Regions from separate parts of the Homo sapiens genome. Here region 2 is linked to region 1. Evidence: fine-mapped expression QTL. Tissue or cell type: whole blood. Region 1 holds a variant in brackets; the other region holds the start of a gene. All regions are shown on one strand. Distances are between the middles of the regions.

Evidence for each region. PIP is the estimated chance that this variant, and not a neighbour inherited with it, causes the effect.
Region 2: KRT77 starts here. The variant in region 1 is fine-mapped to the expression of KRT77 in whole blood (INTERVAL, PIP above 0.99).

Annotation. Positions count from the first base shown.
Region 1 is chr12:52,657,691-52,665,869 of GRCh38, reverse strand. No RefSeq gene overlaps it. Among named protein-coding and RNA genes, the nearest start is that of KRT2, 9.6 kb to the right of the region's middle. The variant T/G (reference allele first, on the strand shown) is at 4,761.
Region 2 is chr12:52,698,639-52,706,817 of GRCh38, reverse strand. It overlaps KRT77 (keratin 77), which reads left to right and starts at 3,294. Exons shown (of 9, transcript NM_175078.3): 1 at 3,294-3,926. The coding sequence starts at 3,384. RefSeq lists an enhancer at 5,052-5,221.

The DNA of each region.
Region 1 (8,179 bases):
CTAGACCCTCTTCCTACGTAAAGATGAATGAATGCAGCTGTAACCAGAAAGTAAGTATAATTATTAGCATGTATTTTAATATTGATCATTAACATTTTCTTCAAGGTCCAGCTAAATGCCAGAACTTCTGTGACTCCTTCTCTCTCCCGTGGGGAAAAAAACATTCTTTTGTGTTCCCATCCCATTTTGCCTGCCTGTGTCCTGGCATTAATAACATAATATAGGTAGCTGCAAGTATGTCTGTTCCAATGATTTGTGTTGTCCTAAATGGGTGAGTGGGTGGGGGGCATGCCTTATTTATTTCTGATTATTTCCGACAAAATGGGTTAAGAATCCCGCAACAAAACAACACATGGGGTCCTTCATTTTGGGCCCCTTGGGTGAGGAATGTTGTCCTAGAAAAGCACATTCAAAGGTCTGAAATGTGCATTTATTGGCTCTACTGGGTGTCTTTTCACCTGCCTAGACCATATTTCCTTCGGTAAAGGGGTTATAATGGAGCTGTCTCTGGCAGGCTGAGTTCAACTGGCCATCAGGAGTAGCTATGTCTGACCAATCCTGGGCCAGGGAGGGCCCTTGGTGACCATACCTACCTAGCGAGACAAGTAACTAGCAAGGTGAGCGGATAGGGACTGGGAGGATTTAGGGCCCAATCTCTTAGGAAAGACCTCAGGGGGTAGCAGTTCTCCTAAGTGGGGTCCCTGGGTGGGGTGGGAATATAGTCTATCACATGCTTCACCAGTGGAGAATTTCTGATGGGGCGAAAGTGGATGTCACAACAGTAGGTCCTAGGAGAACTGGACAGGGAAAGCTAAGTCAGGATGGCCTCGCCTCTGAGGTCTTTCTAGGGATGCCCTGGGATTCTTGACTTCAGCAAGTGCCTTACTTTTTACTAGGGAGATGAGCAAAGGGCCGTCGAAATTCAGCCACAGCCATAGACAGGTGCTGCCAGCTATGCCCTTGGGACGAGTGGCCTTTGGGATAGAAGACTGGGTGTCATCTCTTTAAGACCTGTCCTTAAGGTCACCAAATATAGAACAGGATGATTAAACATGCATGAGGACATCTGACCTTAGTTTAAAACCTTGTTTGGTATGATTTCTCCTCAAGACAGCTGTCCTTTGCCCAGACACCTACAGACATAGAGAAGATTCTCCTGAGGTTGCATGGGACAGAGGCCGGGCCCTGTTGGGGTGAGCTGGATGGAGGCAGGCTGGAGGCAGGTGGCAGGGCCATCAGAGTCCCGGCTGAGAACGTGCACAGGACACCTGTCATGGGCATCTGTTAGAGGTTGAGTGTCAACCAGTTTCTCATCTGGGTCAGGCTTAGGGGAGAGGGTACTGTCATTCTCCAAATACACCAAACTTTTACACATGTTTATGCTGTTAGGTCTTTGCAAATGTCTCTCCATTTTCCTGGAGTTCCTTTCTCCCTTTTCTGTGTGTAGACTCGAATTCATCCTTTAAAAGCCAGTTCATAGTTCCTCCTTCCTTGACTCCTGCCTCACTTTTCCATTTATGTTTCCTTGCTTCTGGCATATGATGTCCAGCGGTGTCCTGGAACCCTCCCGCACCAGCTTATGAAAGCCAATTGCCTGCTTTTGTTCCTAACTCCATGTTCAGTAACACCGTGTTGATTGCTTGAGATCAACCATGGTAGGTATATTTACTCCACAGAAATGAGTGCCTATGGAATAATGAATTTCTTGAGGACAAGGACTGTGTCTTCTTTACCTTTTCATCCTGAGGATGCAGCAGAATGTGTATTCTACTGCAGTGATTAGTGAGTTTTTGTTGGTCAATGAACTGGACAGAGTAAGCACTGGAGGAATACAGGAAGGAGGGGGCCACATCACACCAGGGTCATCAGTCAAGGGGAGAGAACATCTGAGTTGAGTTGGGTCTTGGAGGGTGGGTTGATGGTAATTTGGGTGAAGTAGGTGGGATCCCTGGGGATGTTACCAGTTCCAATGCAAGGGAACTCTTGTTTGGGAAGAAGATCCCGTGAGGCAAGCTCCATCTTGGCTTGTAGTCACCTGTCTGCATGCAGAGGTGTGCATGAGACAAGGTCTGAGGTGAGGCCATCTTGCCCCTTCCCTAGCTCTAGGTCCTTAATTAACCTCAATTATATGGACAGTGGGAAAGTGTGTGGCAAGGCAGGTTCTTAGCTTAGCTTTCCAGACCCAACAACCCAGACATTCCTACCCTCCACATTCCTACTCTGTATGCAATGGAGTAGTTGGTTAGTCCCTCTTGTTATCAGTCTTAAGTTTCTGCTAATGCCAGCACAGTTGATTTCCTTCTGTTCTACACCTGGTGGAGCTGGAAGAGCATTTTAGGCAAATGGAGAACATGATATCTGCCTCCATGTCCCTGAAGGAAGAACAAGCTGATCCTGTAGTTGTAACCATTCATTATTAGCATTCACAGATGAACATTTGGTTGTCTTCATTCACACTGTGCTAACTACTAAGGTGTGCTTGGGATCGGAGAAACCCCGCTGGGTTCCAAAGGGAGTGCCCTGTTTTTGGCTGCCTTCTTCTCAGTAATCCTCTCTCTTGGCTTGGTAATGGATAAACAAGGTTTCCATGATGAAGACATAAGGCTTTGAGGAAAGGTGGTGTGGCAGGAGCCTCATGCCACCTCATTGGCACTTCTGACCTGCCATGTGGCACCATGGAGGGGTGCACAGCTGGCAGGACCTGGGCAAATGCAGTCTGTCCTATAGCAGGACAGTCATCAAGCTGTGGTTACTAGGAGTCTGATAAAACAAGGATTGGACCATCTTGCCCCTGTAACCACCCTATTAGCTCCTTTCCTGGCCATCTGCAGGGATGTGAATAGGAGGAGCAGTTGGTCTGATGCCTTAACAGCCCTGGGGGAAGTGTGGCAATGACAGATTTAGAAGTTGTAAAGGACACAACTCCTATTTGCTTCCTATTTTCCATTATTATGGGTAATTGAGCGTTGACTGCAGTATTTATTAAGCCCCTGACTTTGGTCTACCTGAGGCCTTTTCTGGCTCTGAAATTCAGTGCTGTCAGGCTGGTGTGGCGAGGTGGAGGAGCTGCGGGGCTGGGCTCCTGCTCTGTTACCCTTTATTCATGAGGCCTTGACAAGCTCTGAACTCAGTGTCTTCATCTTAGAAATGAAGATGTCAGCCACAATGGTTTCTACCATGTCTTTGAGCTGTTAGCACAGATACCAGAGTAGGGTGGAGAACCTGTAGGAGGGCAGAGCACTCTCACTCAATCTTTGCATTGGGAACAGGGAATTAGGTGAATGAGGGTGGGGAGGGCAGAAGTGGGGCTCCCAGAAGGATGTGGTTTCTGAGTACGTTGGGCCAAGCCTTATCACCACTCGTCTTGTGATCTCAGGCAGGTCTCTTCACTCTCTCAGAGGCTCAGTTTGGTCATGTGTGAAATGAGATAACATTTGCCCTAATTACTTCAGAGGGAGAGTGTCAAAGTGAAATGACACATGCAACAGGGACCTGAAGTAATACATGAAGGGAGCGATCATCAGCACTGCTGCTCTTCCTTGAGAAGGCACCCAAGGGTGGGAGTGGGATGGGGCCAACGAGCAGCGGTGCAGCCTGGGTACGCAGGAAGGACTGCTTCCTTGGGGGCCAAAGTGGGGTCCTATGCTTCATTCTTTTAAAAGAAATACCCATTCATGAAGGGAGGGCTTATATCCTAAATCCATGGCCACTGGCCTTGTAATGAATGGCCACTTAGTGCCTGAGCAGGGAGCAGCGGACCACCAGTTGGGAGCAGGACCGGAGACAGCGGGGGAGCTCCAGGGCATAGGGTTAGGGTGGGCTTGTAAGCTAAGGAAAGAGGTGCATGATCAGGTGGCAAGATGCAGGCTAGGAGATTGTGGCAATAACATAAAATCGACGTAATGTTGGAAGTTCTAGACACTTACTATAACTTCTACAGATAATGCGAAAGGAGAAATATTTGCTTTGTGCTAGAAATTGTGCTGTGTCACATAAATCACTTATTTCACAGCAACTCTGAAGTACTACTGTTGACCTGTGAACAACCCAGATTTGAACTGCACCACTCCACTTATATGTGAATTCTTTTTCAGTAAATATGTTGGAAAAATTTTTGGAGATTTGTGACAATTTGAAAAAACTTGAAGATGAACTTGTATCCTAGAAACATAAAAAAATTAAAAAAAAGTTAGGCATGTCATAAATGCATAAAATATATGTAGATACTAGTCTATTTTATCACTTACTCCCATAAAATATACACAAATCTGTTATGAAAAGTTAAAATTTATCAAAATGTGTGCACACACGGACTCTACATAGTGCCAAAGTCAAGAGAAATGTAAGCAACTGTAAAGGTGCATTATTAAATCATAACTGCTTAAAATTAACTGTGATACATATGTGCTACTGTAATCATTTTGTAGCCACCTCCTGTTGCTACTTCAGTGATCTCAGGTATTGCCATTAAAACACTGTGTGATGCTAGTCATCTCCACAAGAGCAATTAGCTCCCCCAGTAAATTGCTTATAGCAGTAAAAAGTGATCTCTGGAGGTTCTCGCATATTTTTCATCATGTTTAGTGCTTTACAGTAAACCTTGAATAACACCATGGGACCCATGCAGAGTGGCACTAGTGATGCTGGAAGTGCTCCCAAGAAGCAGAGAAAAACCATGACATTACAAAAAAAAAAGCTGAATTGCTTGATATGTACCGTAGATTGAGGTCTGCAGCTGCAGTTGCCTGCCATTTCTGACA[T/G]GATAGATAATTCATCTTGCAAACACATGATGTAAGCTTATGGTATTGATAGATACAGTACAGTACTGTAAACGTGTTTTCTCTCCTTATGATTTTCTTAACAACATTTTCTTTTCTCTAGCTTACTTTATTGTGAGAATACAGCAATAACATATATATAAAACAAACAAAATATATGTTGACTGCTTATGTTATCAATAAGGCCTCTGGTGAGCAGTAGGCTAATAGTAGTCAAGTTTTTAGGTAGTCAAAAGTTATATTGAATTTTCAACTGCAAGAGGGGTCATGCCCCCTAACCATTCGGTTGTTAAAAGGTCAACTCTACTGTTACCACCACTTTACAGATGAGGAAATGGAGGCCACAAAAGGGTAGGTAACATTTCCAAGGCCAAGAGGCCAATAAGTGGTGGGGCTGGGATTCAACCCAGGTGTGTTGGACAAATCCATGTCCTTAACCAGTACACAGGCGGCCTTTGCTTGTTACAAGGCACCATGCAAGGATAATTAATTGTGATATTAGGTTGGTGCAAAAATTATTGTGGTTTTGGCTATTACTTTTAATTACATTACTCAGCTTTTCTTCCTAAACAGAAGATCCCTCTCAATGTTTTCTCTTGGGATACTGTAGTCACTTTTTATATGAGGACAGAAGGCAAAGAAAAGACTCAGGGGACAGGCAGAGGGCCCAACAGCCCAGTGTTGGAAAGCCTGGGTTTTCCACCAGGGTAGAGCAGGGCAGGTCTGCCTTGAACCTGGCCTCAGAAGCTTCCTTCTCAGTCCTCTTTCCTTCCATCAGCCTGGGGAGAGTGATGAGGAGCTGTGCCCCCTGGTCCTTTGAAGGGACCCTGGTCATCTCTGGCAGGGCCTGCTGCTCCCCATCAATGCCAGGCAAAGAGCTGAGTGCCATGCGCTGCTGCTGAAACACCAGTGAGGAAACATAAACTGGCGTCTCCCAACCTCATCATCAGGTCTCACCCCAGTCCTGCCCCTCCCTTGCCTGGCAGTGCTCTTTCCTCTAGCTCTCAGAGGAACCAGGGGGAGCCTGCTCACCCCTTGACAGACGATCGTTTGGGTTTTAGGACAAAGGCAAAGTCTGCTTTCCCAAGGTAATGTAAACAGCCAACCTGCTCTAGTATGATGCTCCTTGTTTTGCTGTTTGGAAAGCAGGTGTCCCCAAGAAGGGCCAGGATGCCAGGCAACAAGGCTGTTAGGTGGGTGAGGGAGTCTAGAAAGCTCCTGCAAGAGCAAGGGTTCGGAAGATGCGGAGGGCTCCTGGGACCCAGCTGAGCTTGATCTCCTGGCTGCTGGTCTAGGGAAGAAGAGAAGCAGAGGTGGAAACTAGAGGAGGGTGGCTGGTGAATAAGAGATCAAATCCCAAGGGTGTGGAGCTGTAAAACGCTGTGCAGGCGCCCTGCCATGCCTTCCAGCAGCATTAGAGACTGGCAGCAGGACGGGTGCTCGCATTTTGTGCTTCCTTACTGGCTCCCCTCCTTCCTTCCAGGCAGATTCACTCTCTTGGTGGCTCCCGCCAGGTGTCTTCCCTTAAACAGCCCCCAGGAGGCCAAGCTCTCTGTCCCCCAGCCTTCCCACACTGCCAAGATCTCGTCCCCAGGGAGGCTGGGGACTCCTGTACTATGCGGATGGCAAGTCCTCAGCCCACCTCCTCCATTTACCCTTCACTGCCCACTGCCTGAGTGCAGGGATCCTGGGTATAGGCAGGGCAAGGGCCCCCTGCCCAACCTTCCTGCTCTGGCTGTATCTGGGCTCAGTACCACACATGGCAGTCTGTGTCCATGCCTCTGTCCCCAGAGAGAGCAGGATGAGGGCCTCTGAAACTGGGTATTAACAAGGCCCCAGATAGTTCTCTGCTGTCTTGGCAATGCCACACCGAAGAGGCTGCCCATTGTATTCACACTCCGAGTGGTGGGGAAGGATCCTCACGTTCCCTGGCCTTTCTAGTGGGTGACATGAACTCCCTGGGACATGGGAGGAGGGAGGATCCCCTTTTCCTCACATTCAGTATGATAGTCTACTATACTGCCCCTGCCAACTCCTCCTTGGCCCACCGCCACCCCCACAGCAGCCCTCCCCTCTTTTGTGCTTGCCCACTCACGTCTCTACCCCTTTGGGCCTGAGCAGAAACCCAGAACATCAGACACTGCAAAGGCCTCTGCGTGTGTCTTGATGATTAGTGTCTGCACAGGACCAGGCAGTGGAAAATGTTGGCAGTAATCTGGTTTCATGGATTTGCCCAGACAAGCCTGCCATCATGTCCCCATTCTAAAATTCTGTCACTATCACCTCTCTTTTCCTTACCAGAAAAACCTTATTTCTCCCTAATAGTATGAATGGCATGGAGTTAATCCCTGTACAGAGAGAAGTGCAGGCAACATCTGGTCTTCCAATATATGGACAGCGAGCTGAGTTCATGGATATATTAATGGGCCTCCAGAGGACTCCTGACCAGAAGGAGTGGGTGTCTGGAGCCTCTCCTGAAAGAGGGGTCCTGGGAAGCCCCCAGCATATAGGCTGTAGTGTGTAAGTGCCAGCTGAGTGCCCATGTGGAGGCCTGGTGGGGAAGGCGGGTCCATGCAGAACCATACAGACTTCCAAAGGGTCTTATTGGAGAGCCAATGAGATTGGCATCTTTGGTCTTGATCTGAGTGGGAGAGACACAGCCTGAAGCATGCAAACCCAAACGAGGCAGGGTGTCTAGGCATGAGCCAGGAGCAGCAAAGCAATGCCCACCCAAGGGAGGGGAGAGAACCTGGAGATTTTACACACCCAGAGCCCCCTCCAAACCCAGGCAAACTTTCCACAAAACTTTCCCTAGTGCTTGACATGGAGCTCCAGAAGAGGAGGTAAGGTTCTGCCTGCCCCGGGTATGCCGAGCCCAAGGGAAGAGAAAGAATTAAAGGAGAAGCAACGGACCAGGATCTGAGAAACTTTGTTTAGCTTTTGGAAATGGTGAGAGGTTATTTCAAAGAGACAGTTATTTATGGATCTACTCTACTTCTTGGTATCCTTGAGAAAAACAAGAGATATAAGCCCCTAAGGAGCTTACAGTTGGGGAATCAAGATATAATGAACTCGTGCCTTTTGGGCCCTGACTGATGGCAGCTCCTGCCTGATGGCAAACCCTCCTATTCAGCTGCAGCGTACCTGTTTGCCCTTCTCTCTCCTCTCTGGCTTCCCTTTGTCTACTTTACTGCTGCCATTTCTTCCTTCATCTCTTGGTGAGAAAATAACCGAAAGCAGGGTCTGTGTCTGCACATTTTGTCTCTACGCTTTCCCAGAGTTTGCATCTGCTCTCAGGGCTTTAGCTATTGTGTCCATTTAAAGCACAAACTGATGTCTGAAATGGAAGGAATCGGTGTAGCCCGGCGCCTCCACTTTACAGATGAGAAAATCAAGGCTCA
Region 2 (8,179 bases), 41 kb before region 1:
GGAGTCAAGTGTCCCAGCCATGGGGCTAGGAGGGGGCGGAGCCAGGAGTCAGAGCTGGGTTTCAAGATGCCCAACTCAAGGATCTGTTCGCCACACCACTGCTGTTTCCTGTCTGGTACTTACTGTCCCTTCTCCTATCAGCCCCCATTTTCTCAGCCAGACCCCTACTTCTTCCCCCTGCTCTGTTCTTTCTGCCTCTCCTCTGATATCTGACTCAGAATCCTGGTCTTCAGGCAGCTTTCTCACATGAACCCACCCCTTTCCCTAGCTTCACCTCTCTTTCCTTCCTCTGCTTCTACTGGTTCTCTCCTTGTCACTCTGTGCTGGAGGCTAGGCCCTGGCTTCCCTCTCTTACCTTAGGGTTAGGAGTATGGCTGTGTGGACCATAGGTGCCTAGGACTAGGGTGACCAACTGTTCTGATTTGCCCAGGTATATCTTGGTTTAAGTACTGAAAATCCTAGGCAAAGCAGGACAGCTGTCATCCCACCAGGATCTGTGAGCAGCTATTTCTGCTTGTTTAGTGATTCCAGTGCTCTGCTTTTTTCTCCCCACATGACTTATATATAGCTTTGAATCCTTGAGAAATAGACACTTTGGTTCCTTAAGTGTCTGAGAGGCTCTAGGTTCCTTAAGTGTCTGAGGCTCTAGACACAACCAGCAAGCAGCAGAGCTTCTGCCTATAAATTTCAGGCTCATTGTCTCCTCTATCACACAGTGTCTCCTGGATGACCCACTGAACAGATACCATGTACGGAATGCAGAGGTTCATGAGAAGAGGGTGTGGAAGCTTGGAATTGCCCTTGGAGCATTTCCCTGTACCAGGATGACTTTTCACTGCGGCGCCCCCACAGTGCTCTTGTTTCTACCACCTGTTCTTCCCCACCTCTATTGGGATTTCTGCCACAACTTTCTTTTTTTTTTTGAGGTGGAGTTTCACTCTTGTTGCCCAGGCTAGAGTGCAATGGTGCAATCTCGGCTCACCACAACCTCTGCCTCTTGGGTTCAAGTGATTCTACTGCCTCAGCCTCCCAAGTGGCTGGGATTACAGATGTGCCACCATGCCCGGCTAATTTTTTGTATTTTTAGTAGAGATGGCATTCTCCATGTTGGTCAGGCTGGTCTCGAACTCCTAACCTCAGGTGATCCGCCTGCCTTGGCTTCCAAAAGTGCTGGGATTAAAGGCGTGAGCAAAAAATATTTATTGCAATGAACATAAAGAAAAAGGACATTTAAAACACCAGGAAAATTCAGCCGGGCACAGTAGCTCACGCCTGTAATCCCAGCACTTTGGGAGGCTGAGGCAGGTGGATCACCTGAGGTCAGGAGTTCTAGACCAGGCTGGCCAATATGGTGAAACCCTGTCTTTATTAAAAATACAAAAAATTAGCCAGGCGTGGTGGTAGGCACCTGCAATCCCAGTTACTCAGGAGGCTGAGACAGGAGAATCGCTTGAACCCAGGAGGCAGAGGTTGCAGCGAGCCAAGATTGTGCCACTGCACTCCAGCCAGGGCAACAGTGCAAGACTCTGTCTCAAAAAAATAAGCAAACAAACAAAAGAACCTAGGAAAACTCCTCCCACAGTCTCTAAATAAATCAACTCACTTTCTAGTTACTCACAAAGTCTGTCTTATCTGCATTTTTTTTTTTTTTTTTGAGAGAGGGTCTCATTCTCTTGCCCAGGCTGGAGTGCAGTGGCACGATAAGGGCTCACTGCAGCCTTGACCTCCCAGGCTCAAGTGATCCTCCTACCTCAGCCCCCCTGACCCGTGGGAGCTGGGACTACAGGAGTGTGCTACCACACCTGGTTAATTTTTTGTATTTTCAGTAGAGATGGGGTTTCGCCATATTGGCCAGGCTGGTTTTGAACTCCTGGGCTCAAGTGATCTGCTTGCCTTGGCCTCCCACAGTGCTGGGATTACAGGAGTGAGCTATTGCACCCGGCCTTCTGCATTCTTAATTCTTATGAGTTCACAGCGCAGACTCCATCATGTAGTCTGCCCTTTCCCTTTAATATGGTACATAGTATCACAAGTGGTTGCCGGTTCTGCTGCAGAGTCTCCAACAAGATGATTTAAAATAATTGTATCCAATTGGGCAAGCCATCGCTTAGCCATTTTTCTAAGGCTGGAGAGTTTTTCCCCAAGTTAAAAAAATTATTATTACATTTTGGATGAAAGCCACAGCTATTTGAGTCCAGAGGGAAAACGCACATTTTTTTGTTGGCGGACACTGATGCTCACTGAATGAGCTTTTCCCCAGGATGCTGTCTGGGACGTGCTTCTCAGAGGGTGAGCACAGATTAGTGCTGGTCTACCGTGCTTTGCTATTGCCTTGTGGTAAGCACAGAATTTGAGAGTAACCATTTAGAAAATTATTATTATTGTTGCTATTTTTAGCAGTTAAACAATGTTTTGTTTGCTGAATCTAAAAATAAAAAAAATTTGGGCTTGCATTTTGTATATCTTTTTTAAAAAATTATCTTTAGGAGGTAATTCCTTTAATTCTATTTTACAAAAGTATTGTCTATAAAGAACCGGAAATGATAAAACAGAAAGAGAGATAGTTAGGGATGGTTTGTCTTCTGGTCTAGAAGACAATATTAGGTACTGGTAGATGCTCAACAAATCTATAACCACAGACTTTTGGTGCTGAAGTACCTTGTGTGGTTTTGTGTTTGAGAAGTCTGAGGCTTATCAAGCAGCACACAATGTGAATGACCTTGGGCAGAATCTGTGGGCCTCCACTTGTACTCAGTGACCACAATATTGCACTTCCATGTGATAAAATTTTGGGTGCTCATGGTGATGATAACTGCAGGGAGCAGAAGCAGTGTGTGGGGAGATTGGAACAAAACTTTTGCCCCACCAGGACGATGCTGTGACAGAAAGTGTTTCCACCTCTGTCCCAGCTATGGTCCTGAGGTCTCTAAACACCATCTAACTTTGCCCCAGATCTCCCAGGCACATCCCAGAAACAAACAACTCGATGGTGGAGTTTCTTAGGAAGAGATGAACTGATGATTTGGGGAGAATCTGTATAGAAGTTTCCAGCAATGAGATCCTGAGAGATTCTTGCATTCTGATCTCTAAATGGCAAGAGATGAATGATAAATGATCGAGTTGGGGAAGTTTGTCTGCAATCTGATTTCTGCAACTCACAGGTGTGAGGTTTTAAACAGATGTTGCTGGCAGGCAAACTAAACATTAATACTCCCCTTTCAGGATTGTAAAGGTGCCCAGCCCAGTAATGTGTGTGTGTGTGTATATATATAGAGCCGGAGCCAGATCTTTTCAAAGGAGTCAGAGCTCCTTTCCTCTCTGGTCTCTGCCTCCTTCCTGCCAGGCTCTTTCTCTTGCCTGCTTCTCTGGATGCTCCAGCAAACATGAGCCACCAATTTAGTTCTCAGTCCGCGTTTAGTTCAATGAGCAGGCGGGTTTATAGTACCAGCTCTTCTGCAGGCTCTGGTGGTGGGAGTCCGGCAGTGGGTTCTGTGTGTTATGCTCGAGGGAGGTGTGGTGGTGGTGGATATGGGATCCATGGAAGGGGGTTTGGCTCTAGGAGCCTCTACAATCTGGGTGGCAGTAGAAGCATCTCCATTAATCTAATGGGGAGGAGCACCAGTGGTTTCTGCCAGGGTGGGGGAGTAGGGGGATTTGGAGGGGGCAGAGGCTTTGGGGTTGGCAGCACCGGGGCTGGTGGCTTTGGAGGAGGTGGTTTTGGGGGTGCTGGATTTGGGACTAGCAATTTTGGGCTTGGGGGCTTTGGTCCTTATTGTCCTCCTGGGGGCATCCAAGAGGTGACCATTAACCAGAGCCTCCTAGAGCCACTTCACCTGGAGGTGGACCCTGAAATTCAGAGGATCAAGACCCAGGAGCGGGAGCAGATTATGGTTCTCAACAACAAGTTTGCCTCCTTCATTGACAAGGTGAGCACCTCAGGGGCAGGGAGGGTCATTGGTCACTGACCAAATGACTGAGAGAGATTACACCTTACCACCTCTCACCACATCGTGCTGTTTCAGCTTGACCTGGGACCTTAGAAAATCATTTACCCATTTGGGCTTCAATTTGTCTTCTTGCAGGGATTTAATTCCATCTTTTCCTTTTGGCAGGAAAGGAGATAAGCAGTGTTAAAATACTCAACAGATACATGGTGTAGTACCCTCATTCTCATTCATAATTATTCACTTTCCATCCACCCATCCACCCATGCACCCATCTATCCATCCCCATCCACACAATCCATTTATACACACACACACAAACACACACACACACACACACACACACATCCATCCATTCACTTATTCATCAATCCACCCAACTATCCACCCTTCCGTCCATCCATCCATCCACCCACCCATCCACACAATCCATTTATACACACACACACACACATGCACACACACACACGTGTTCATCTGTTCATTCACTCATCCATCAATCCATTCAACTATCCACTCATGCATCCATCCACCCATCTAGCCCACAAATATTTTCTAAGAATCTATGATAGGCCAGACATCGTGCCAGGTGCTACAGGTGACTAGGACACAGGTCCTGCCATCAAGGAGCCCACGTCTAAAGGGGAGAGAATTACTACAGTGTATGTGAAGTGTGTCAATAGGGGTAGTACTCTCTGGGCCATGGTAGCTCAAAGGAGGGTGTCATGAGCTCTGCTTGCTGAGTCTGGAAGGCGGATGAAAAGTTAAATGGGTTCTAATTTTAGTATATGTGCTGCCGAAGTGAGCACGAGTTAAATGGGTTCTCAGGGCAGAGGGGATTTTCAGGCAGAAGGACCAGGAGGCATGAAAGCGTGACGCGTTTAGGGAATTTCAAACAGTTACAATTCCTGGAGAAAATGGGATACCAAGGGGTGGAGGAGAGAAGTGGAGATGAAGCCACAGAGCCAGGGCAGGAGAAGCAGGCAGGGCATGGTGAATGCCCTGGTGGTGGGTATCTCTTGGGGCTAAAGTCAATAGCATGCAATGTAGGGTTCTGTCTGAGTTTCCCCTTTTGGCTCATCAAGGGCCAAGGATGGGCCAGATGGAGACACAGAAGCCCCTGTCCCTAGTTCCCTGTTGAAACTTCAGATTAGGTCCAAAGCAGCAGCAGAGGCTGGAGAACTCGCCATGGTGAAGACCTCCCTCCAGCATCTCCTTTTGTCTGGAGGTCGAGGCACAGCGGCCACTAGCACCTCCCCAGGAGGAACTTTGCCTTCAGGGATGCAGTGGGAAGCCCCACAGAGCACCAAGGCCGCTTGCACACTCAGTGACTTTCCCTCAGTCCCCACGGGAGTTCAGTGCTGAGGCCAGAGCTTGACCTGTGGCCTGACTGCAGGGTAGCTGTGGCTAGAGGCCATACTGGGTGGCAGGGCAGGCCTCTGATATCTGAGCAGATGCTGGGGATGGGACAGTGTGTGAGCGGGCGGAGGAGGGTGAGAGTGCTGAGGCCCAGAGGCTGCCGAAGAGGAGCGCAACACAGCAGCGTGCTCCCGTGGCTTCCGATCATGCTGCGTGGGAAATTTGGCTGAGTATCACCACGCTTCAGGCAAAGGCAGGGGTTAGAGGGTTTCACTGGAGCAAGGAGTCACTACTCGGAGGTCACGGCTGGGCCAAGAGAGGAGCAGGGAGGAGAAAGGGCTGGGAAATGACCACAGGCCGCTGGCAACTGACCTCCTGAGGCTCATCTGATTATGGCCCCTGCCATGAACAGGGTCTGTCCAGTTGCATGGCATAGGGCAGTGGGCAGAGGCTAGGGTGCAAGAGACCTGGGCCTCCTGTCCTTCGAAGGGCATGGCCTATGATGACTATGAGGAGAGGCTTCTCAGCCAGGTGGGCTGTGGCCTGGCTGGAAGGAAGAAGGCTTCTATGACAGGTGACTTCTGACTCTGCTTTCCAAACTGGTCTTCCTGCTTTCACCCTTGACCCTGTATAGCCTATACTTGACACCACAGCAGAGCCATCCTTTAAAAGCATGTCACGACACTCCTCCATTTGAATCCTCCAGTGGCTTCTTGTCTCGACTGAAAGAAAAGCCCAAGTCCTACAAGGCCCTATATTACTTGCCCTTCAACCCGCAGCTGCTGCTAAGCCCACACTTGCATTTGTGGAATCAGGCCACGTTGCCCTCACTGGGTGGAACAGCTTTCGGGATACAATGGCTAGTAAGCAGAGTGAGGCCTGGAAAACAGCCCCCAGGCTTCCAACTCATTGTTGTCTGCAGCCTCCTGTGCCCCTCTGCCTCCTCTCCTGCTCTCTTCTTGCTCACCAGCATCCAAGGCTCAGTTCTGTCTCAAGGTCTTTGCACCTACCATTCCCTCTGCATGGAACTCTTCCCCCGAGAGAGAGGCCCACCTTCCTCCCTCACCTTCTGTGGGTCTTTGCTCAGATGCCACAGTTTCAGTGGGGCCTTCCCTGACCACCACTTCAGTGTTCCTATGCCCCGGCCCTGTGTGACTCCATAGTCCCTGCAGCCATCTGAGGCACTGTATTTTTTACATGATTATTTCTTTATAGTAATCTCTCTAAATAGAATGCAAACTCCTGGAAAGCAGGGATTTTGCCTGTTTTTTTTATTACCAAATCCCTAGCACCCAGAATAGTGCCTGACATATGAGAATTGCTCAATAAATAGAAACCGGATGACAAATTGGGTCAGCCCCTCAGGGGTCAGTGCTGGACGCTCAGAGAGTGGAAATGGAGCCAAAGGCTTTCTAGAACCAATGACAAGGGGACAGGGCCTCAGAAAGGAAAGGAGGGTTTCAGCTCTTACCCCTGGGACACTGGCCTGGCCTTGATCAGCTGACCCTTGGACCTCTATGCTAAGAGTGGTGAGTGGCCTGGATAGCCCACACCAGCAGGCAGTTCTAAAACCTTTTGCACTTCATGAGTGCATGACACTTTTTGTCTTCTCCGTGTTGGGCATTGTGTGTCCATGGGTCCACTGTGTCCCCTGGAGAACAAAGTAGACATAGGCCTGCCCTCATGGGGTCCAGTGCAGCCCGGGAGAGAGATGCTCACACACTGTCACATGACTGCAAGTCTCAACAGATCTAGAAAGGCAAGGAACAAGGGGCTGCAAAGGGGACACACTGGTGGGATGCCACCTCAGCTGAGGTCTAAAGGATGAGCAGGAGTTTGCTGGGCAAAGAGTTGAGGAGACCTGGGGTGCTGAGGGCACTGGGAGGTCCCTGTGCAGGGGAGGAGCACTGAAGCAGAGGGTGGGCGAGAAGGTTGCTCAGCAGCATGCCTCATTCCATCGGTGCTAGCTGAGCTGCCCTTGAGTTTTGCTGGTGGGACACAGACCAGGAGTGTTTTGGGGAACCTGGGGAAAAACACAGTGGCTTTTACTGATTGTTCTAGTGGTTAAGGCACTCCCTGCATCCAGACTCTGCCTTTGCAGTTTGGGTGGCCTGATGAGAACCACAGTGTCTTCTATGAGCTCCTGGATATTGCGGATGGGTACCTGGGCTAAAGCCAGAGCACCCAGAGTTGTGTCACTGCTCCCTCATTGTTTTATGTGGAGACTCTCCATGGGACCACAGGATTCTTTCTTTTGGTCCCCACAATGCCACTGCCACTGAGTGCAGTGAATGAGTCCTGAATTGATTTCTTCACTCCCTGGGAGTGCCACCACAGAGTAAAAATAGAGAGTGGCAGGAATTTCTCACGGTGTTGTGAGCTGTGCTGACAAGCCTGGGAGAGCTGCTTGCCTAATCTCTTGCTTTGATAAGGTGAGCAAAAATGAGCCATGGGAGGTTGTGTTGTCTGCAAACATTTTCCAGCCTAGAGTCAGAATCCAAAGGGAGCTAACCAGGGTTGGCCCCTCAGAGGGGCGGAGTCTCAAGGGCCGGGGGATTTGGAGGACCCTCACTAGTGTCACGTGGTAGGGGAGTGTCTTCAGGGTTCCGTTCTGACCACACAAAGCAGTGGGTTTGCCCCTTTACATGGTGCCCAGAGGAGGAAGCAGGATTCTGGAGGGTGTGTGTTTTTGGGCGTGTGCGCCTGCATGCGGCCGAGCAAAGTCTGGAGGCAGCATCACTGCTGCTATCAGGGCACTGGAGCAGAGGCTCCACAGTGTCTACCTGGCTGAGGAAAGGTGGAGGCTGGTCATTACCATGCCAAGGACAAGCCGCACACTTTGCACAGCCAGCCGCCTCCCTGGGCCCCGCATCTTA